Regions from separate parts of the Homo sapiens genome. Here regions 1 and 3 are each reported to be linked to region 2. Evidence: microRNA targets listed by miRTarBase, many of them from high-throughput screens and not tested one by one. Region 2 holds a microRNA gene; each other region holds the end of a gene's coding sequence. Distances are from middle to middle.
The links. Region 2 holds the annotated microRNA hsa-miR-5186 (AGAGAUUGGUAGAAAUCAGGU, at 2,420-2,440, shown strand). A microRNA usually pairs through its seed, bases 2 to 8, with sites in the 3' UTR of a target mRNA and lowers its output. Matches are read on the target gene's strand: a 7mer-m8 pairs with bases 2 to 8, a 7mer-A1 pairs with bases 2 to 7 and ends in A, and an 8mer does both.

Region 1: miRTarBase lists AP3S2 as a target of hsa-miR-5186. Seed matches in the 3' UTR shown: 7mer-m8 at 1,439-1,445.
Region 3: miRTarBase lists ARGFX as a target of hsa-miR-5186. Seed matches in the 3' UTR shown: 7mer-m8 at 4,039-4,045.

Annotation. Positions count from the first base shown.
Region 1 is chr15:89,829,174-89,836,293 of GRCh38, reverse strand. AP3S2 (adaptor related protein complex 3 subunit sigma 2) reads left to right here. Exons shown (of 6, transcript NM_005829.5): 6 at 651-5,695. The coding sequence ends at 779. It overlaps ARPIN-AP3S2 (ARPIN-AP3S2 readthrough), which reads left to right. Exons shown (of 10, transcript NM_001199058.2): 10 at 651-5,695. The coding sequence ends at 779. It overlaps LOC124903552 (a long non-coding RNA gene), which reads right to left and starts at 385. Exons shown (of 2, transcript XR_007064754.1): 1 at 1-385.
Region 2 is chr3:151,561,225-151,568,343 of GRCh38, reverse strand. It overlaps MIR5186 (microRNA 5186), which reads left to right and starts at 2,349; the gene lies at 2,349-2,468. The region is part of intron 1 of LINC02066 (long intergenic non-protein coding RNA 2066); the gene reads right to left. It also overlaps a transcript of IGSF10 not described here.
Region 3 is chr3:121,585,402-121,592,521 of GRCh38, forward strand. ARGFX (arginine-fifty homeobox) reads left to right here. Exons shown (of 5, transcript NM_001012659.2): 5 at 621-5,221. The coding sequence ends at 1,199. LOC124906360 (small nucleolar RNA U13) reads left to right here and starts at 5,893; the gene lies at 5,893-5,993.

The DNA.
Region 1 (7,120 bases), not on the chromosome of region 2:
GCATTTATTGGGTACCCACCATGTGCCAGGTACTGTGAGAGGCTGGGGCTGTGAAACTGTATAGGCCACACTCCGCCTCTGAGGAGCTGGTAGTCTAGTAGGACTGCAGGCTTTGGATCCCTGTGCCAAACCCCATCTAACCTCAAGATTGTTTTGTTGGCTACTTTTGAGGAATAAGGGGGGAAAGTTAAAACTTCAGTTGTGTGTGCTCAGTTTGGAATTTTTCTAGGCATCCTTCACCTGTTATTTTGTTTGTTTGTTTGTTTGAGACAGAGTCTCACTCTGTTGCCCAGGTTGGAGTGCAGTGGCGTGATCTCAGCTCACCGCAACCTCCGCCTTCTGAGTTCAAGCGATTTTCCTGCCTCAGCCTCCCTAGTAGCTGGGACTACAGGGGCCCGCCACCACTCCTGGCCAATTTTTGTATTTTTGGTAGAGATGGGGTTTCACCATGTTGGCCAGGCCTATCTCGAACTCCTGACCTCAGGTGATCCACCCACCTCGGCCTCCCAAAGTGCTGGGATTACAGGCGTGAGCCACCACACCCATCCTGCTTGTTTGTTTTTGTTTTTGCTTTTTTTTTTTTTTTTTTTTTAGCATTAAGCAGATAACAGTGAGAATTTGTCTCATACTCGCCTCTCATTTCTTCTTAGGGTGGCCTTTCAGCAGCCCCTGCGCGGGCTGTGTCTGCTGTGAAAAACATCAACCTGCCAGAGATTCCTCGGAACATCAACATTGGCGATCTCAACATCAAAGTTCCCAACCTGTCCCAGTTTGTCTGAGGATCAAGTATTGGCCTGAAATAGAGTCCTTAAGACAAGCAAAGACAAGCAAGGCAAGCACGTCTGGAAACAGAACCCATTTTGAGCCTTAGAAGAGTCAAGCCTCAGGACCTGGAAACTTTGTGTCTGGGGAAGACTGTTTGGCATGGAATAGGGAAGGGATTCCTATTGACACTGCTCGGGTGCACCCAGTTCTCACATGTGCAGTCATGCCGTTCTCTGATGCATACGGCCACTGCAGATGTGAGGGGCCCTGCCTTCCTCAGTAGGGAGTCAACATGCCCAAGTCATTTGCACCTTTACCTCTCACATGGATGCTCCCAAGGGTTAGGGACTGCATTGAGCAGGCCCACCTGCTTCCCAGAACCTCCTCACTAGGGCTGAGCACCTTCTCTGAGTAGAGTCTTCATCCTTAGCACCACAGACTTCTGAGGTCCTGTGCCCTTTACTTGCTGGTGAGGTGTCATAGGTAGAAAAGGGCTGGCCCTTCAGATCTGGGGGTGTGGTGAGTGGCAAGTAAGGGCAGAATTTTAGGAGAACCAGAGTCACCCGCTGGCTCTACTGAGATTGTTACACCCAGAATCCTTTTGTGTTTTTTTGTGGTTTTTTTTTTTTGAGGTGGAGTCTTGCTCTGTCACCCAGGCTGGAGTGCTGTGGTGCAATCTCGGCTCACTGCAACCTCTGCTTCCCGGGTTCAAGCATTTCTCCTGTCTCAGCCTCCCCAGTAGCTGGGATTACAGGCACCCACCACCATGCCCAGCTAATTGTTGTATGTTTAGTAGAGACAGGGTTTCACCATGTTGGCCAGGCTGGGCTCGAACTCCTGGACCTCAAGTGATCTACCCGCCTTGGCCTCCCAAAGTGCTGGCATTACAGGTGTGAGCCACCGTGCCCGGCCACCAGAATCCTTTGGTATAGCCAAGCCTTTTGGTTACCGCCTCATGAAGAATATGCTTCCCGCATTGTCCTAGTCCCAGTTGTATTCTCACAGGTGTTATGTGCAGGACACAATCCAAATCATAAACCTGGCTCATGCCCAACACATTTCTGCTAATAGGGAGAGGGACCCACCACACACCCACACATGCCAGAGGTCCCTCCTCACAGAGGAGAGGGCCTGTGTCTGTAGAAGGTTAAAGCTGACAACATGTGAAACATCCCAGAATTATGACTCTTCCCAAGTTTAAAATACATTCTCCTCATGAGAGCAGAAGGTTTGTTGCTGTGTTGTGAATGATGAGCTGCCTCCATAGGGAACCCACTGCCACCTGGGCCAGCTTCTGGAGCATGAGAACCTGAGCCAGGGTCACCCTTGTGGGGCCTGGACATGACGCACGCTGGCTGCGACTAGGAGCAGGGCTGCCTCTTCTCCCTCCCCAAGGTCTGCTTGTGGGCACGCTCTGTTCCCTCAGGTGCCATTCTCCCAGGGCTTAGGCGCCCATAAATGTTCTTTCTGTGGTGGAGTAGGGCCTCCTGCTTCCATACTGTCGCATGGGCTAGATCTCAGGTGTGGTGTTGAGCCACCTTAAGATGAGGGCTGCTTCGCAGTAAAGTTTCCAGCCTGGGCCCCTCTTGGGCCTTCTGGCTGGGGACCCTCAGCCTCCTGATGCTGTTGCAGGGCAGGTCTGAGAGGGTGCCCAGCAGCACCCGGTGTCAGGGCCACCTTGTTTTCCATTTTTGAACAGCGCTCCCTGTGGTTTGTGCCCACTGCTCAATACAGCCTCCGATCCTCACTCTTGAAAGCTCCATGATAAGCACAGAGATGGGCAGTGTGGGTCAGAAGGTGGGCCGCTTCCTGTGGAAGAGGGAAGTGTAGGTGAATAGATATCAAAACCCCTGATGTCATTCTTTTGAGGGGTTGGATTTTCTTTTTTCTGGCAGACATTTCAGTACATTCACATTTCTCTCACATTTGCTGAATGTGAGATCAGAATAAAGGAGATCGGCGTTTATTTCGTACCTTCTGTAAGTTGGCATGAGCAAGATCATTCAACTGTCCTTACAACAGGCATTCTTATCCCCATTTTGCAGATGACGAAAGTAGACCCAGCTCCAGTAACCTTCCCTTAGATTACACGGGGCTGAGATCTGAGACTGTTCACTTGACTCCACTGTCCTTTTCTTTCCTCGCTGCTTAAGATGGCTTCTCCCAATGTTATCATCTTCTTTTTTATAGATAAGGAAACTGAGCCTCAGAGAGTCTGACTTCTCACAAACCGTGGTCTAAATAGGCTTGATTTTCTAAGGTGGCCAGTGATCATGTCATAGAGTATAAGAGCCAAAGAGTCGTCTGTGTCCCTCCATTTAACTGATGTTGAAGCCGAAGCCCAAGGTGGTAAATGTTATGTTGAGGGTCACAAATCCAGAGCCACATCCCTCTTCTTGAGTTCGTTTGTTACGTGGTTTAATGCATTACTGCAGGACAGCCCTTATGCTAGATTTCCTGGGATAGCCTAGATTTTGAATGTTTTGCCTGCCAGAAACCAATGGTTTTAAAAAATCATTGAGTGGTCCTACAGATTCAAAGCGAGCATCCAAACATCCCTCACATGGCCTCTTACAATGACATAAAACTGAAGCCCACTTTTTTATTTGGAAAACTCAATCCCTTTGGACAAGCCACAATAATTTTTCATTAACTACTTGAGGTTGCCTGCAAATTCAGCTAGCTTTCCAGCCTGCTATCAGCAAAGCCATAAACATCTTTTTTAAAAATAGGTTAAGGTTGGCCAGGTGCGGTGGCTCACGCCTGTAATCCCAGCACTTTGGGAGGCCGAGGCGGGCAGATCACGAGGTCAGGAGATCGAGACCATCCTAGCTAACACAGTGAAAACCCATCTCTACTAAAAATACAAAAAATTGGCCAGCCGTGGTAGTGGACACCTGTAGTCCCAGCTACTCAGGAGGCTGCGGCAGGAGAATGGCATGAACCCGGGAGGCAGAGCTTGCAGTGAGCCAAGATCGCACCACTACACTCCAGCCTGGGCAACACAGCAAGACTCCGTCTCAAAAAAAAAAAAAAAAAAAATAGGTTAAGGTTGTATAGAATACTAGGCTTTCCTTTTTTTGTGAGATGGGGGTCTCACACTGTGGCTCAGGCTGGAGTGCAGTGGTGTGATCATGGCTCACTGCAGCCTCGAAGCCCCGGGGTCAAGTGATCCTCTCACCTCAGCCTCCTAGGTAGCTGGAACCACAGGCACGCAACCACCACTCCTGGCTAGTTTTATTTTTTTAGTAGAATAAGGTCTCACTATGTTGCACAGGCTGGTCTCTAACTCCTTACCTCAAGCCATCCTCCCGCCTTGGCCTCCCAAACATGTTGGGATTACAGGTGTGAGCCACTGGACCTGGCCAAATACTGGGTTTTCAGTGCTCACTGCCACTAATAAAAATCTGAAATTCTTTCATTATGCAATTTCTAAGTGCCTGGTGAGGGCCAAGCTCAGTTCTAGGCTCTGAAGATTAAGAGAGAAACAAGGCTCTGTCTGCTCCTGTTGTCTCTGTGAGCATCTTTGACAGAGTGCTCAGATTGTTGGGATATAGTGCATCGGACTGGCAGCCTGAATTTGTGGAGACCGCAGTCAGTAACTTTGTGATATATGGAATATTTAGAGGACAGTAACCCATTTCCCTACGCCCTACCTGATCACATCGTGCCCTGCTGGGCCATACCCCAAACAGCCCACCTTCCTCTAGGCCTGGCCATGGCCCTGTGCCTGCCACATTGAGGATTAAGTCAGGATATCTTGAGCCCTCTCAAATCCCTGTTTATTCAGGCCTCTGCCACATATAGAGCCAGCCTTCTGTCCCCACCACTTCCACTACCATGGAGCCCACTTAGTAAAACGCTCTCTGGGCCCAGCTTCGCCAGAAAAGACACCAGGGGAGCAAGGCTCAAACCAGGGGCAGCTAAATCTGATCTTGTGGACCAGTCTCTAGTAAGGGCTTTCAGCGTGGCTGTCTGTCCATTGCTTTCCAAATAGGATGCAGCAATGATTGGTACATGGGTATTAAGATCGGTAGTAGGGGCTAGTCCAAGTTTAGCAATAGCCAAACTGGAGAGCCTCTGAAGTATGAGAGTCCCAGAGGGATTTGTCAGCTCCTGGCAGACATCCTGATTTTCACCTTCCTGAGTCTACCCTACCCCAGAGGGTGCCAGTCTCACTGTGGTGATGGTTAGCCCAGTGTGTGCTGCACTCACACACCAGCACGGGGTCCGTGCTTGCAGGCTGGTGGATGCTGTCCTCTGGGTTAAGACTGTCTCCCTTCTCGGGAGCACTGGAGGGTTCTCCATCTGCGTGTTTCAGTGGAAGTTGGCAGATACGAAAACAGGCCCCTATAGGGAAGCAGTTCCATGAAAATGATTAATTCTTTCCAAAAGACTTAAAATTTTTTCCTATTTCAATTTTCCTTTCAAAAAAGGAAATACATTCATGTAGTTCAAAACTTAAGAAAACAAAAGTCTGTTCAGCAAAAGACTCCCACTCCGGTTCCCCAAACGCTGAGCCCCACCCCCCATCCCTGGTAGCAAGAAGTGTTTCCAATTTTAAGGTTAAGAAACAAAGTCCCTGGATTTGTGTTAGGGATGTCTTCCTGAGAGTGGGTTGTGTTCCGTTTGACCCTGGCGGTTGACCTCGGCCCACTAGGATCATGCCGCCCTCTCCAGGGAGGAGGGCCTCCCCATCACCCTGTACAGTGGCACCCCAGCCCTGGCACTGCCCGCCCTTGCTCAGCGTACCTTTCCCATGGCACTCTGACGTACTGGATGTTTGGTTTCTGAAGTTACTGGCTGTTTACCCTGCCGGGATGTAAGCCCCTCCAGGGCAGGGGCTTGTCTCGTGTTCAGTGCTGCATCCCAGCTGCTGGGCACGGTACCTGGTCCATGGCGTTCAATAAATAACTGTTGGATGAGTGAACGGTTGAGGCAAATGGCAGTTCATTCTAACAGTCTCAGCATGTGCTCTCCAGGTCCCTGTGCTCAGCACTTGGGAAGGAGAACCAGAATAGTGGTATTGGAAGCAGGAAGTGGGAAGGACCCGATGATGGCTCGTGGAGGCTGAGGGAGAGGAGAATGGCAGAGCTGGTGTTGGCAGGTGGAGCCCGTGTAACGAGGAGGCGCAAGGATGGGGCTCTCGAGAGAGGGAGGGGGTTTGGGAGGGTGGCAATCAGGAGTTTGGATGTGGAACGCATTCGGTTGGGGTTGTCCAAGCATCTCTGGGGGCAGATGTCCACCAGCCAGCTGGGAAACTGAGTGGGCAGGAGAGGAAATGAGTCTCCACCCAGAGATGATGATTGGAGGTGTGGGGGTGAGCGCTGTGGCCGAGGGACAAGAGGGTTGAGGACTGAGCCTGTGGGCAGGGGAGAGAGGAGCATCTGGACAGCGGGCGACTTCAAGTCAAGGAAGCACTTTCAGTGGGGAGGGGGACCAGGAAGAGACGGCCTCTCTCAGGCTTCCATTGGCCCCAGCCCAGCCCCCCGAGTGAGAACTGTGAAGAGATGGCTCTAGCCTCATGGTGGGGCAGGTCCAAACTTAGTGTGGGTCACAGTCCAGCTCTGCAATGTGCAGTCTGAACCTTCGGAAGATTCAGTTTGCTCATCTGAAAAAGAGGGTAATGATTCCTGCCTTGTAGGTTACTGTGTGGATTCAGTGAATCACTGATGCGGACGATGAAGGACTCACTCAGTCAACATTGGCTACTCTTATCACTGAGACTTGCAGAGGGAATGGGAGTTGAGGAGGTGGATGGAATAAGTTCGATGATGCTGGGAAGGAGAAAGAGCTCAGGTCCTGGCAGAAGGGGAAGAGGAAATGAGGGCAGCAGAAACCAAAGTGGGCCTTAAAGGAGGGCACTGCACGGGGATGGTGATGCACACTGGCCCTGGCCTGGCCTGTCAGTGGGGTCCCACACCCGTATCCAGAGGCACAGCTAGATAAAATGGTTGAGGAGGTGGTGGGGTCTGCAGAAAGTGAATCTTAAGATGGGGAGCGTCTGAAGACATAGAAGAGCAACTAGCAACTGGCAGGACCCACGGTATGGGGGTCAGAGGGGAGAGGAGCCTGGAACTTCCTTTCCCTGGAGTCAGGAGGGACATCTGGCAGTCCCAGCAAGCACGGCGGGAGCTCGAATCTGGGGACCAGTGAGAGGGCCTCTGACCTCGCAGGCCTGGATGAGAGTTGGGGCCCCTGCAGGGACTCCACGCTTCCCATGAGAAGTGGGATCTTTGAGCCTTCTCAAGAGCAAACCTTACATTTTAGTACAGCTCTGACAGCCTGGCCTCCCGGGAGCACTTGGAAACAGGGGTGTCCCCTCCCCCAGCCTCCAAGGACCAGGCTGCAATTT
Region 2 (7,119 bases):
GTTTGCACAGTGTCTGGAGGAGGCACGTGTCCATGTGTTTTCAAGCTTTGTCCAGTAAAACAGTGTGCCTGTGACAATTAGTACTGACTTTTTACCAAACATATGCTTAGAAATAAGGATAATTTATTATAATAATCATAAATACAGGATTAAAGAGGAAAAAGTACTTTTTTTGTTCTATTGTATATGTTCTGTGGCAGTAGACTAGACAGCTAATAATTTAGACATCTGAGAGGACCACCTACCAGAACAGAGGGTCTTTACTCTTCTGACAAATAAACTAGTAGGTACCCAAAGATTGAGGCCCAGAAGAAAACAGAGAGAGAGGCTTTGTTTTAAAATGTACTGGGGTTTGTTTTGATCACTTATAGTAAGACGTGAGCCTGACAATGACTGTCATGAAGGAAGAAGGTGTTTGCACTCACAGTTCCCTAGAAATAGGAGGCACAGCAATGCAGGGAAGTCGCTTGTGGAAGCCAGGCAGGGGGCACAGGGGAAAAGCAGGGGTCAGCGCCTTTACTGCAGTTTTGTGGAAAGGAATGGGCAAGGCAGGAAAATAGGCTAAGCAGGTTTAGAATTGTCTTGTTGAATCATTTCAGCAGGCTCTGGGGTGTAGGAGCTGTTTGGAATTGTCTAGCACCTCGCCCTGGGCTGATTAGGGCAAGAAACTATTGGCCTGGAGTGGAAGGGTCCCACAGAGGTAGGGGGCTAGTTACAGTAGGCTTTGAATTGCTTAGTTTGCATATAAAAGAGACCCTCCCAGGTAACACTGTTTGATATCTGCAGGAATTAACTAATGCTGGGAGAGGCCATCCCTCCAGATCTGTGAGGCCCAAGATGCCAGAGCATCAGGAATACAGAAAATAAGAAAATAAAGTTCAAGTAGGTTTACAGTGAAAGTTTTTCTTGTTAGTTCCCAACTATACACCCTAGCACGAGTCCCAGAATTTCTACAGTCCTGGTTTACAGATGATACTCTCAGCAGAGGCAGAGTGACTAGGCTTCTCAATTTATTCATATGGATAATAAAGTGGCTCAAATAAAATGAATATTTATTATAAGGCCATAAAGCCATTTCACAAAAAATGAAGCAGAGGTGAATCTCCCAGGAATAGGAGCTGAGATCCAGGGAACCACTGAAGATAGAAGTTTCTCTCTCTTTGTCTCAACTGCATATAATCTTCCTCATCTATGATCATTGGCTACTGTCCACAGACAGGATCAAAATGCCCAGGGCCCAAGTCTACAGACCCATTTACTTCATAGGCCCACATCCATTTGACTAGAGACTCTGTGTCTCAGAAAATACATTTGCCTACAGGCTAGCCAACAGATTGACAGCCACCTGGATAGGTGTTGGTCCCTGGTCCAATCAGGGAAAAGGCTATGACATTAGACGAACTTGAACAGAGAGACTCATCTCTTCAGCAAGGGTGAGCATGGAGCTGACAGTGCTGTAGATAGGCCAGGCAGGCACCCTGAAACTACACCACCTCTGTTAGCTAAGAAATATAATTCTTCTTGACATTGAAGAAATTGCTAAAAATTGTGACAGGACTTGTGGCTGTTAACCTATTCAGAGGGAAAGATGGTAGTACCGAATGCTGCTCACTAAATATTCCCAGCTCTCTGCCCTCCGGCACATAGCACTCTATGGCTCCCAGTGGTTGGTGGAGGCCATGTAACTATTCTGGCCAATGAACTGAAAGCACAAACAATGTATGCCACTTTCCTGTTGAATGTTTATCTCTTGGCATGATTTCCTCTGAGCTCTCTTTGTCCCTGCCATGGTAGCATCCTCCTGATAGCGACTATTCTATCAGCCTGGGACCCAAAGCAGGGACAACACATGGGTTGTCAGAAGAACAAGAAGTCAACTTCCTTGTTAGCCACTGAGATTTGGAGTTTGTTATAGCATAACACAACCAATGCCAACTGGTTTAATAAATCCAAAAAGTTGTACTTATTAAGTAGAACCCAACAAATGCTATTAACTTTAATCATCCCTCAGTTCTGGGGAGAGCAGAGGAGACCTTATGCACTATCTTTTCTACTATTCATCTCAAATCTTTCCTAATCTATCATTTGTGGGGTAGGGTTTCACTTCCCTGCTTCCTAATTCATAAACTATCATGTTTATCATTATTTGGTCAGATTTCTGATTTTCTAGCTGATACCTCCCATTCTAATCCAAATTTGCTTTCTCCCCTCTGCCAGGGAGTTCTCATGACATGTAGCTAGGGCCTCACTTTGTGGCAATTTTATAAGCCTCTCATTAAACATTGGCACTGCCTCAGTTGCTTTCTGCACTGATTCTCCCAGGACTGGACCCCTGCCTACTCCCCAACTCAGCCAGCTTATGACTTGACCCTCTCACCTGATTTCTACCAACCTTTCCTCAGCTGATTTCTTTCTGGGGAGAGATTGGTAGAAATCAGGTGAGAGGGTCATGCCATAAGCTGGCTAACACTTTCATGCATTAATTAATACAGGAATCATAGCTATCATCTTAATCTATCACTCTCGTATCTATCTGATACTATGCATTAACGTTCTCAAAAGGCAAATTCCAACTAGAACAGTGTTTCTCAAATACCAATCAGTGGGCCAGAAGCAACAGAATTAGCTCAGTAACTCACTAGAACTCCAGGGTAGGTGCTTTAGTAGGTCTAAAAATATAAAGCAGAACATTTCTATGTTTGTTTGTTTTTATAACTTCCCCCAGGTGAGTCTGATGCACAAAAAAGTTTTGAACCCCTGGAACAGATCATTCTGTAGCTGCTTGAACTTCATAATTTGAACTATTTACCTCAACCTGGAGGCAGGCCTGGCTTTCTTGATCCCTTGTTTCAATTTTGACAATGTTCACCTTCTGCTCTGGCCAGGAGCTCCCAGGATGCCAGTAAACCAGACCTTACCACTCACCTCTGTATATAATGGCATCTCAAATTCCTTATTCACTTTTTGTACTTCTGGGTTACAAACATACTGGTGATTTTATATTATGATTTTTACAAATGGGTGAAATATGGTTTCTGGGCCTATAAAGTCAAGCACTAGATTCTAGATTCAAGGTCTCTCTACCAATTTGCCAAACCCCAGTGAAGTACTGCTTAAAGTTCTCAACTGGTCTTACCTCCTAACAATTGATAATTCACACAGCAATTGTCAAACCATCATATGAATTAACCAGTAAATCCCATTCTCTGCCAGTACTAGAGAGTTCTTTCAGAGTTTTTAGAGAGAAAGTATAGCATAATATAAGCCACAGATTCCAGAACCAGATTGCCTGACTGAAGTCCTAACTGCGCTGTTTATTAGCTGGTGATCTTGCACAAGTTACTTAGCTTGCCTCTGTCTCAGTTTTCTACTTCCTAGGCTTGTTACAAGAGTTAAAGGGACTGATACCTATAAGAAATCTTGTGCTTAGTATGTATTCAATGAACATTTAACCATTACCATGATTCTTACTTTTTAGTTATAGGCTATTTATTTACAACCACTTGTATATGAAACTTTCAACTGCACGCTTACCTTTGGGTACCTCTTGTAATTGATTCACCGGTAACTCACATGTCATTATGCTCTCTCATGCTAAAGCTCAGTCAGTAAGTAAATTGTTTCTTGGCCTCTAAGGACATGCATACCTCATTCAACTGCCGTAACCCAAATGCATGCAGATATCAAGCAAAGCAAACTGGTAAAAACTATGGCCAACTGGGGAACACAAACTTCATCTAAAAGGTCAGCCACTTCTCAGTCCAGCCTAATATTTCCATGCCTGAATGCAAACCCAATGCTTCCTTCTGTCTTTTCAAAAAGAAGCCAGAAATTTAGACTTTCATGGTCAATTTCCCAATTTGTAAATGTTGTCAAAGAAAAAAAGAAAGAAAGGAGGAAACAAAGAGAGGAAGGAAGGAAGGAAGGAAGGAAATAAATTCTTAAACGTCATGCTGGCCAAAACATATATGTAAGCCAATTTGATCCAAAGCTGCCAATTGGCTCCCTGTGCAATTAAAAAAAAAGTCAAATATAAAATTGAATGTGTGTACTGATGCAAAAAAGGAGTATGAAACCCGATAATATCAGCTTGGTCAAATTAAATATGCATGTAATGCCCTAAAAATATGTATTTAATACATTGTTTATTAGAACTAACATAAAGAAATTAGAAAAAATATAGCTATTTATGTTTTACTCCTAAAGCCAATGCAAGGTTTGTGGTAAAACCTGATGATGATCATCTTCTATGAAACAGAATATTCTTTTCACACTCATAACAGGAAGCGAGCAAAGATGTGTTTAGGAACATAAATGCTGGATCCAGACTGCCTGAATTTAGATCTTAGTTCTGCCTCTTGCTGGGTGAATACCCTCTGATGTCTTCATTTGGATTGCTTCCCCAACCTGTCTGTGCCTCAGTTTCCTCACCTGTGAAATGGATATAAGAACAGCACTTACCTCATAGGTAGTTCTCTGACAATTCAATGACTTAATTATTATAAAGCATTTAAAACAGTGCCTAGCATATAGTAAGCCCTATATAAATATTTGTTAAATAAATTATGGCTTTTGTTCAACCAAAATTTTACTTCCTAAATACTTATAAAATATCATAAGGCAGGCTAATATTTTTTTTAAACGCTGCAAATTCAACTACAGGAAACCAAATTCTCTCCAGTGCTTTAAACTAGAGCTAAATGTCCAAGTGAATATTACTGTTGTTGGTGACAACTCTCCAGCACTTGGATATAATTCTAACAGAAGGAAAAAATGCAAGTTGTTGTCAGGGACAATTGAGTATCTGATGGCTTGATGGCTTCTGAGGTCTCTTTTATATATCCATAAACGTGTTATTTGTCTTACTTGGCAGTGAAGCTCATGGAAAACTGAACTCTCTCCCTAGAGTCCTTAGCTTTTTATTAGATTCAGGATTTCCTGAAGCCCATTCACATACCTCAAATTAAGAAGGCCCAAGTTAGGACATTTTATTATTTTGTTATTCTAGTTAGTTGATGCCTAAAGTGTAGGCAGGATGCCCTGGGACATGAGGTGCAGAGGTACGGGCCTTAGCAAGCAGTACCAGGTAGGAGAAATGGGAAGAAAGTCACTCTCACGGTCAAGGCTGTTTATTCCCTCTCCTAGAGGGCCGCAGGGTGAGAAGATATATGGCAGACACACCTGAGAGCATTAACTCAAGCATACCCTATGAATGACCTACCGTCTAAGAAAAATGTGTGTTAGGAGTTCTGAGCTAAGGAATCCGGGAGTGGCCAACCCAGAGATTCACTCCTTCTCTATGAAGAACATATGAATCCCTGGCCCATCCCTTAGAATGCAGGTCATGCAGAGGATTGAGGCCCTATGTTTTGGGTTAAATGGAGTTTGCTAGGTGGAGGTTGCTAGGTGGAGGGGGTTAAATGAACATTTTTATATAAACTCCATGATCTTTACAAGTGGTAGCACTTTTCCTGTCCATCCGACCACTCCCTGACTGCCCTGTATGTACGTCCTTGATAAAGTCTATATCTTATTCACTTGGGTCTCTTCTTTGGGCTCTTGGACATGGTGCATTGGTGCCTTCCCTACTGGAGTCAATAGGGGTCTGGCACCACAGTAGAGCACTTCTGTAGAATTAAGAAGCTTGAGGCTCTAGTCTGGACATTGGTACTAACAAGTTGTGTAATCCTGGCCAAGTACCTTCCACTCTTGGAGGAAGTACCTTTAGAAGGTACTTCCTTAAAATGAGGTGGTTTGACCAGGTGATCTTTAAGATGCTTTGAACAGTATGTGTCATCTTTATACTAGAGTAAAACTGTTACCGGAAAGGGGTCCCAATCCAGAACCCAAGAGAGGGTTCTTGGATCTTGTGCAAGAAAGAATTTGAGGTGAATCCATAGGGTTAAGTGAAAGCAAGTTTATTAGGAAAGTGAAGGAATAAAGAATGGCTACTCCATAGGCAGAGCAGCTCCGAGGGCTGCTGGTTTCCCATTTTTATGGTTATTTCTTGATGACATGCTAAACAAGGGGTGGATTATTAATATTCCCCTTTTTTAGACCATATATGGTAACTTCCTGACATTGCTGTGGCATTTGTAAACTGTCAGGCACTGGCGGGACTGCAGCAGTGAGGAAGACCAGAGGTCACTCTCATTCCCACCTTGGCTTTGGTGGGTTTGGGCTGGCTTTTTTACTGCAAACCTGTTTTATCAGCAAGGTCTTTATGACTTGTATCTTGTGCTAACTTCCTATCTCTGTGACTAAGAATGCCTTATCCTCCTGGGAATGCAGCCCAGTAGGGCTCAGCCTTATTGTACTCAGCCCCTTTTCAAGATGGAGTTGCTCTGGTTCAAACGCCTCTGATAAAAGAAAAAGATAAGTCTTGAAAGTATGTGTTTGGACCAGAAGAACGTCAAGGCTATACACATGGGTTACATTTTCAATGATTTATTTGTGTAATTTAAATAAGAAATATTGCAGCATGCTTCACTATTTAAACAGCACAAAAGATTGTATAATAAGGAAAAAATTATTTCTCCTCCTCTGCCTTCCACATACTTTGGTTCTGCTTCCCCAGGTTACCAGAGATATGTATACCTCTCCCCACTCCCCTTCCTATTTTTAAACTACAAATGGTAACAGATGTATATATTATTTTGCTTCTTGTTTCTTTCTTTATCAGGATATCTTAGAGGACGTTCCATGTCAGTACATATGCATCTTGTTTACTCTTTTTAAAGCCACATTTTATTTCATTACATAGATATACATATTACATAGAGATGAATAAAACTGTTTCCCTATTAAATAATATTTATATTTACAAAAGAGTCACCAGCATTTTGCATCGATGAGCAATTCTAAATAAATCCCTTTATACACCTCTTTGTACAGATGAACCTGATGAAAGGGAAGAGTATTTGGTTTTCTAGGGATTCTTAGATTCTTCATAATAGAGATTAAAAAGAGGAAATAGTATGTTTCTGCCTAAGGAAGTAGACTAAGTTCTCATTTAGAGAACTATTTAACCCATGTGCCTCAGACAATTAGATTTTTCTCCCTTTACTTTAGCAAGAAACAACATTTAGTTTTTTGTTTTAAAGAAAAAATTATCAAAAA
Region 3 (7,120 bases), 30 Mb from region 2:
GTCTTTTTAAGCAAAGCCCTGCAATCTGTTTATTCATAATGCTACCAACAGACAAATAATACTCCCTCTAACCTCTGAGTCTGCTAAAGCCCATGACGTTTTTCTTTTTTCTCTTTTTTTCAGAGATGGGGTCTCACTATGTTGCCCAGGCTGGTCTCAAACTCCTGAGCTCAAGTGATCCTCTCACCTCAGACTCTCAAAGTGCTGGGATTACAGGTGTGAGCCACCGTGACTGGCCATACATTTTTACTGGAGTATTCCTTATAGGAGAGGCCTCCTAAAATAATCCTTAAAAATCCTTCAGTTCAAATTCTTCACCTCTCCCTAGATCCTAGATCCCTAAACTAGCCTCTCTTCTCTAGAGTTCAGGACCCTATCTCTGAACACCCAGCACAAACCCTGAAACACACCCGCTTCCTTCCTTTCTGGGGTCCCAGACCTGATCTTCATCATCCCTCCTACTGACTCCAGTCATGCCCATCTCTGCTTTTGCAGAGCCCAGTGTCATGGTGAATTAGAGAGGACATGAAGATTATAACCTGGCTGTTTTCACTCAGGAGAATCCTCCAATGCCTCCTCCAATAACAGACCACAATCTCCCCCTCTTCCCCTACTCCCAGGTTTGGTTCAGGAACCGGCGATTCAAATTGAAGAAGCAGCAGCAGCAGCAATCAGCAAAGCAACGAAACCAGATCCTTCCATCCAAGAAGAATGTGCCCACCTCCCCCAGAACATCCCCCAGTCCTTATGCTTTTTCTCCTGTGATTTCAGATTTCTACAGCTCCCTTCCATCTCAGCCCTTAGACCCTTCCAATTGGGCATGGAACTCTACCTTCACTGAGAGTTCTACCAGTGACTTCCAAATGCAAGATACTCAGTGGGAGAGGCTGGTGGCCTCGGTTCCTGCTTTGTACTCTGATGCCTATGACATATTCCAAATCATAGAACTGTACAATCTTCCTGATGAGAATGAGATATCCAGCTCTTCTTTCCACTGTCTGTATCAGTATCTCTCACCCACAAAGTACCAGGTAGGAGGACAGGGTTCCTCTCTCAGCATCTTTGCTGGTCCAGCTGTAGGCCTATCTCCTGCACAAACCTGGCCCAATATGACAAGCCAAGCCTTTGAAGCCTACAGTCTAACAGATAGCCTGGAATTCCAGAAAACCTCCAATATGGTAGACTTGGGATTTCTCTGACCAGAGTACTAATAAATATAGATCATTTAGAAAAGTGGTCTTCTTGCCTCTTGTACATGACTGTTTTTTTCCTTTGTCTCATTTTAACCCAACATCTGGGTCTGTGTCTCTGATTTCCATGTAAATGTTGCAAAAAGAGTTTTCCAAGTAGAGCTGGGCACTACGTAATCAGCCCCACAAGTCTCCCTGAGAAGCCTGCCTAGTCCCTTTCATGGCCAATGAGACTCCAAAATTCCCTTCCCAAAACTATCTTGGATTTTCTAAAAGTAGGACAGTGGTTTTGGGGGTTATCCACTTTTATTTTTTTGAAACTAGCTCTCATTCTGTCACCCAGGCTGGAATACAGTGGTACAGTCACGGCTCACAAAAGCCTTGACCTCCTGGGCTCAGGTGATCCTCCCACCTCAGCCTCCTGAGTAGCTAGGACTACAGATGCTCGCCACCACACCTGGCTAATTTTTTTTTTTTGAGACTGAGTCTCGCACTGTCACCCAGGGTGGAGTGCAGTGGCGGGATCTCAGCTCAGTGCAACCTCCACCTCCTGGGGTTCAAGTGATTCTCCTGTGTCAGCCTCCTGAGTAGCTGGGATTACAGGCGTGTGCCACCATGCCTGGCTAACTTTTGTATTTTTAGTAGAGACGGGGTTTCACCACGTTGCCCAGGCTGGTCTTGAACTCCTGACCTCCAGTGATCCGCCTGCCTTGACCTCCCAAAGTGCTGGGATTACAGACATGAGCCACCGAGCCTGGCCAATTTTTGTGTTTTTTGTAGAGACGAGGTTTTGCCATGTTGCCCAGGCTGGTCTCCAACTCCTGGACTTAACGCCATCCACCTGCCACAGCCTCCCAAAGTGCTAGGAATACAGGAGTGCACCATCGCACCCGGCTGGGTTATCTAGTTTAAAAACACTTTTTTTCAAGGAAACCGAAGAAACCATCATCCACTTTTCTCTCTGTATCATTCTGATTTTAGTATATGTGTTGTGGAAGTGAGTACACTATCATCCACTTTTAATGACAGAAAGTTATAAACTTACATTTTGTTTCCAATTTTTCATTTTTTGTTTGTTATTTGTTTTTTGTAGACAGCACTCTGTCACCCAGGCTGGAGTGCAGTGGCACCATCTTGGCTCACTGCAGCCTCTGCCTCCTGGGCTCAAACAGTCCTCCCACCTCAGCCTTCTGAGTAGCTGAGACTACAGACATGCGCCACCATGTCTGGCTAATTTTTGTATTTTTAGTGGAGATGGGGTTTCGCCTTGTTGCCCAGGCTGAATTTGGGTTTTTTTAAAATGAGACTTTCAGTCCTAATTTGAGGGGAAATTACTGTCACCACTAGTTTTAATATAGTACAATGAAAAAATAATATATATATATATAGTACAATGGTCCAGACATAATAAGAGGTGTAAAAACTATCACAGGAAGAAATAAAAACAGATTTTTGAAGGTGAGATGATAAACTTGCAAAACTCACAAAATAAAGAGTCAAACTTTTAGAATGACAAGTTAGCATATTTTCCAGCCACATGATCAACCTACAAAATTAATACCATTTCTGAACACCAGTAATAAAGAAACATAAGGGCTGGGGGTGGTGGCTCATGCCTGTAATCCCAGCACTTTGGGAGGCCGAGGCGGGCGGATCACGAGGTCAGGAGATTGAGACCAGCCTGACTAACATGGTGAAATCCCGTCTCTACTAAAAATACAAAAAAAAAAAAAAAAAAAAGCCAGGCATGGTGGCACACACCTGTAATCCCAGCTACTCGGGAGGCTGAGGAAGGAGAATTGCTTGAACCTGGGAGGTGGAGGTTGCAGTGAGCTGAGGTCGCACCACTGCACTCCAGCCTGGACAACAGAGCAAGACTCTGTCTCAAAAAAAAAATAAAAAATAAAAAATAAAAAATAAAAGAAACATAAGATAAGTACCTCTCAATGAAAAATGTAAAAGTACCTAGAAATTCACAAAAAAATTAATACCTCTGTGGAGAAAACTTCAAAACTTAAAAAAGGACATAGAAAATGTTTTGAATAGGCCAGGCGCAGTGGCTCACACCTGTAATCCCAGCACGTTGGGAGGCCAAGGCGGGCAGATCACGAGGTCAAGAGATCAAGACCATCCTGGCCAACATGGTGAAATCCTGCCTCTACTAAAAATACAAAAAAAAAAAAAAATTAGCTGGGCATGGTGGCACACACCTGTAGTCCCAGCTACTTGGGAGGCTGAGGCAGGAGAATCACAAGGATTGAAACTATGCAGTGTGTTCTCCAAACATGATGGAACGAAATTAGAAATCAATAAAATTTGGGAAATTCACAAATATGTGGATATTAAACAACACATTCCTAAATAACCAGTGGTTAAAGAGGTAATCACAGTCTGAGCAACATGGCAAAACCCTGTGTCTACAAAAAATAAAAAATTAGCTGGGCATGACGGCCAGAGCCCATGGTCCCAGCTACTCGAGAGGCTGAGGTAAGAGCATCCCTTGAGCCACAGAGGTCGAGGCTGCAGTGAGCTGTGACTGTGCCACTGCACTCCAGCTTGAGCAACACAGTGATACTGTCTCAATAAATAAATAAATAGAAGAAATCATGAGTAAAATTGGAAAACACTTTTAACTGAAAAAAACAAAAGCACAACAAACCAAAACATGGGATGAAGCTAAATCAATGCTTAGAAGGAAATTTATAGCTTCAAATACTTATATACATATTTTTTAAAAGTAGCTTTACATAGGAAGGAAGTGGCATAGTTTTATCAATATCTGTCAAATTAAACTTCAAGGCAAAACTTTTTTATTGAGATGGAGTCTTGCTCTGTCACCCAGGCCGTGCAATCTCGGCTCACTGCAACCTCCGCCTCCTGGGTCAAATGATTCTCCTGCTTTAGCCTCCCAAGTAGCTGGGACTACAGGTGTACGCCACCACACCCAGCTAATTTTTGTATTTTTAGTAGGGACAGGTTTTGCCATGTTGCCCAGGCTGGCCTCAAACTCCTGAGCTCAAGTGATCCTCCCGTCTCAGCCTCCCAAAGGGCTGAGATTACAGGTGTGAGCTACCTCACCTGGCCAAAACAGTTTTTTTAGAAATGAAGTATATTAGACAACAACAAAAGGAACAACTAACCTGAAATATATAATAACTTTGAACTTAAATATACTTAACAACATATACCAAAAATATATGAGGCAAATTTTAGCAAAAATTAAAATTCTTAAGAAAACTTCACTAATATATAGTCATAATGTGGTATATTCATAGAACATTCTCAATAATTGATAATAACAGTCCAAAGAAAGCAGAAAGAAGGAAAGCCTAGAACAGAAATAAATGAAATAGAGAATAGAAAAGCAATACAGAAAAAAAATTATGAAATCAAAAGCTGGTTCTTTGAAAAGATCTACAAAATGGCAAACATTTAGCTAGATTGACCACCCCCTCAAAAGACTCAAATTACTAGAATCAGAAACAAAAGTCAAGATTTTATTACCAAACTTATAGAAATAAAAATTATTAGAAAGAAATACTATGAACAATTGAATGCCAACAAATTAGATAAATGAAATGGACAAATTCCTAGGAAGACACAGAATACCAAATCTGACTCCACAAGAAATAGATGTTGTGAATAGAGCTTGCTATGGTATGAATGTGTCCCCCACAGCTCATGCGTTGGAAACTTAATCCCCAAAGCAACAGCTTTGAGAGGTGAGACCTTTAAGGGTTACTAGGCAGAGCCCCCATGAATGGATTAATGCCATTATTGTGGGAGTGGGTTAGTTATCTCAGAAGTGGGTTCCTGATAAAAGGATGAGTTCGGCCTTCTTCTTCCCCAAAATCTTTATCCCCACCCCCACCTCTATCTTTCTCTCTCTCTCTTACCTCCTCCTCTCCCTTCCTTCTGCCATGGGAGGATGAAACATGAAGGCCCTGGCCAGGTGTGGCCCCTCCATCTTCCGTCTGAGACTGGAAGACTTCCCAGCCTTCAGAACTGTAAGAAATAAATCTCTCTTCATAAATTACCCAGTCTCAGGTATTCTGTTATAACAACACAAAAACAGACTGAGACAGAGTTATAACAAGCACAGAGATTGAGTTAACAATTGAAAACTTCCCACAAAGAAAAGCCCAGTCCCAGATGGCTTCACTGCTAAATTCTACCAAAATGTTTAAAGAAGAATTAACACCAATCCTTCATAAACTTTTCCAAAAAAAACAAAAGAGGAGGGAACTCATTTTATGAGATCGATATTATCTGGATACCAAAGCTGAACAAAGACGCCATAAGGGAACTACAGATTATAGTGAGTATCCCCTATTGGAAATGCTTGGAACCAGAAGCGTTTCAGATTTGGAGTTTTTGGAATATTTGCACATACATAATGAGATATCTTGGGGATGGGACACCAGCCTAAACACAACTCATTTATGTTTCATATACACCTTATATACATAGCCTGAAGGTAATTGCACAATATTTTAAGTAACTCTGTGGATGAAACAAAGTTTCGAGTGCGTTTTGACTATGACCCACCATATGAGGCCAAGTGTGGAACTTTCCTCTTGTGGTGTCACATCAGCACTCAAATAATTTTGGATTTTAAAGCATTTTGGAATTCAGATTTCAGATTGGGGATACTCAACCTGTAATACCTCTTCTGAATATAGACGCAAAAATCCTCAATAAGATCCTTTTGTAGTTCATGAATGTGATGATTGGGCATTCACGTGGATGTGTGAGTGCTACCCTCGAAGCTTGTTTCAACATTGGCACATTATGCATCTGACTTGAAAAAACAAATTCTCAATAAAATACTAACAAACTAAATTTAGCAACATATAAAAAGGATAGATACCATGACCAAGTAGGGTTTATTCAGGAATGGAAGATTGATTCAACATAAAAAAATTCATCAATGTAATACACGATATTAATAGAATAAAGGACAAAAACCACATGATCATCTTGCTGGGCACAGAAAAAGCATTTGATGAAGATCCACACTCTTTCTTGATTCACTCAACAAACTAGAACAAACTATCAAACTCCTCTCCTTCAACTTGATAAAGGCCATCTACAAAAATCCACAGGTAACATTGTACTTATTGGTGGAAGACTGAATGCTTCCCCCCTAAGATCAGGAACAAGTGAAGTGTGGCCACTCTCACCACTCTTGTTAAACATAGTGCTGGAAGTTCTAGGCAGGGAAAAACAGCAAGAAAAGGAAGTTAAAGGCATCCAAATCGCAAAGAAAGAAGTTAAAATATTTTTGTTAACAGATGGCATGGTCTTGAAAATCCTAAGGAATCCACAAGAAAACTATTAGAACTAATAAACCAGTTCAGCAAAGTTTCAAGATACAAGATCAGTGTAGAAATTTTTTACAATTTTCAACTGCTATTTGCTCATTCCAAATAAGTTTACCTCCAAGGACATATATGTATGAAGAATCCAGGGGAAAGGTTAATTCGATGGCTGTTAATCACAGCCAAATTTAGCACATCTGCTGTTAGTCAAAATACATTCAAATACATTCAAATAACAGCTGGCATTGTGGAGCACTTGGCATGTGGTACATATCATTCATGTGCCTTATGTGTACTGACACAGTTACCTGTGGTCGCACCAAGTATCATCGCCATTTCACAATGGGGAAAACTGAAATAGAAAATGGTTAAGTAAATTTGTCAAAATCACATACCTAATCCCAGCACTTTGGGAGGCTGAGGTGGGAGGATCATGAGGTCAGGATTTCGAGACCAGCGTGACAAACATGGTGAAACCCCGTCTCTGCTAAAAATACAAAAATTAGCCAGGTATGGTGGTACGTGCCTGTAATCCCAGATACTCAGGAGGCTGAGGCAGGAGAATCACTTGAAGCCAGGAGGTGGAGGTTGCAGTGAGCCGAGATCACG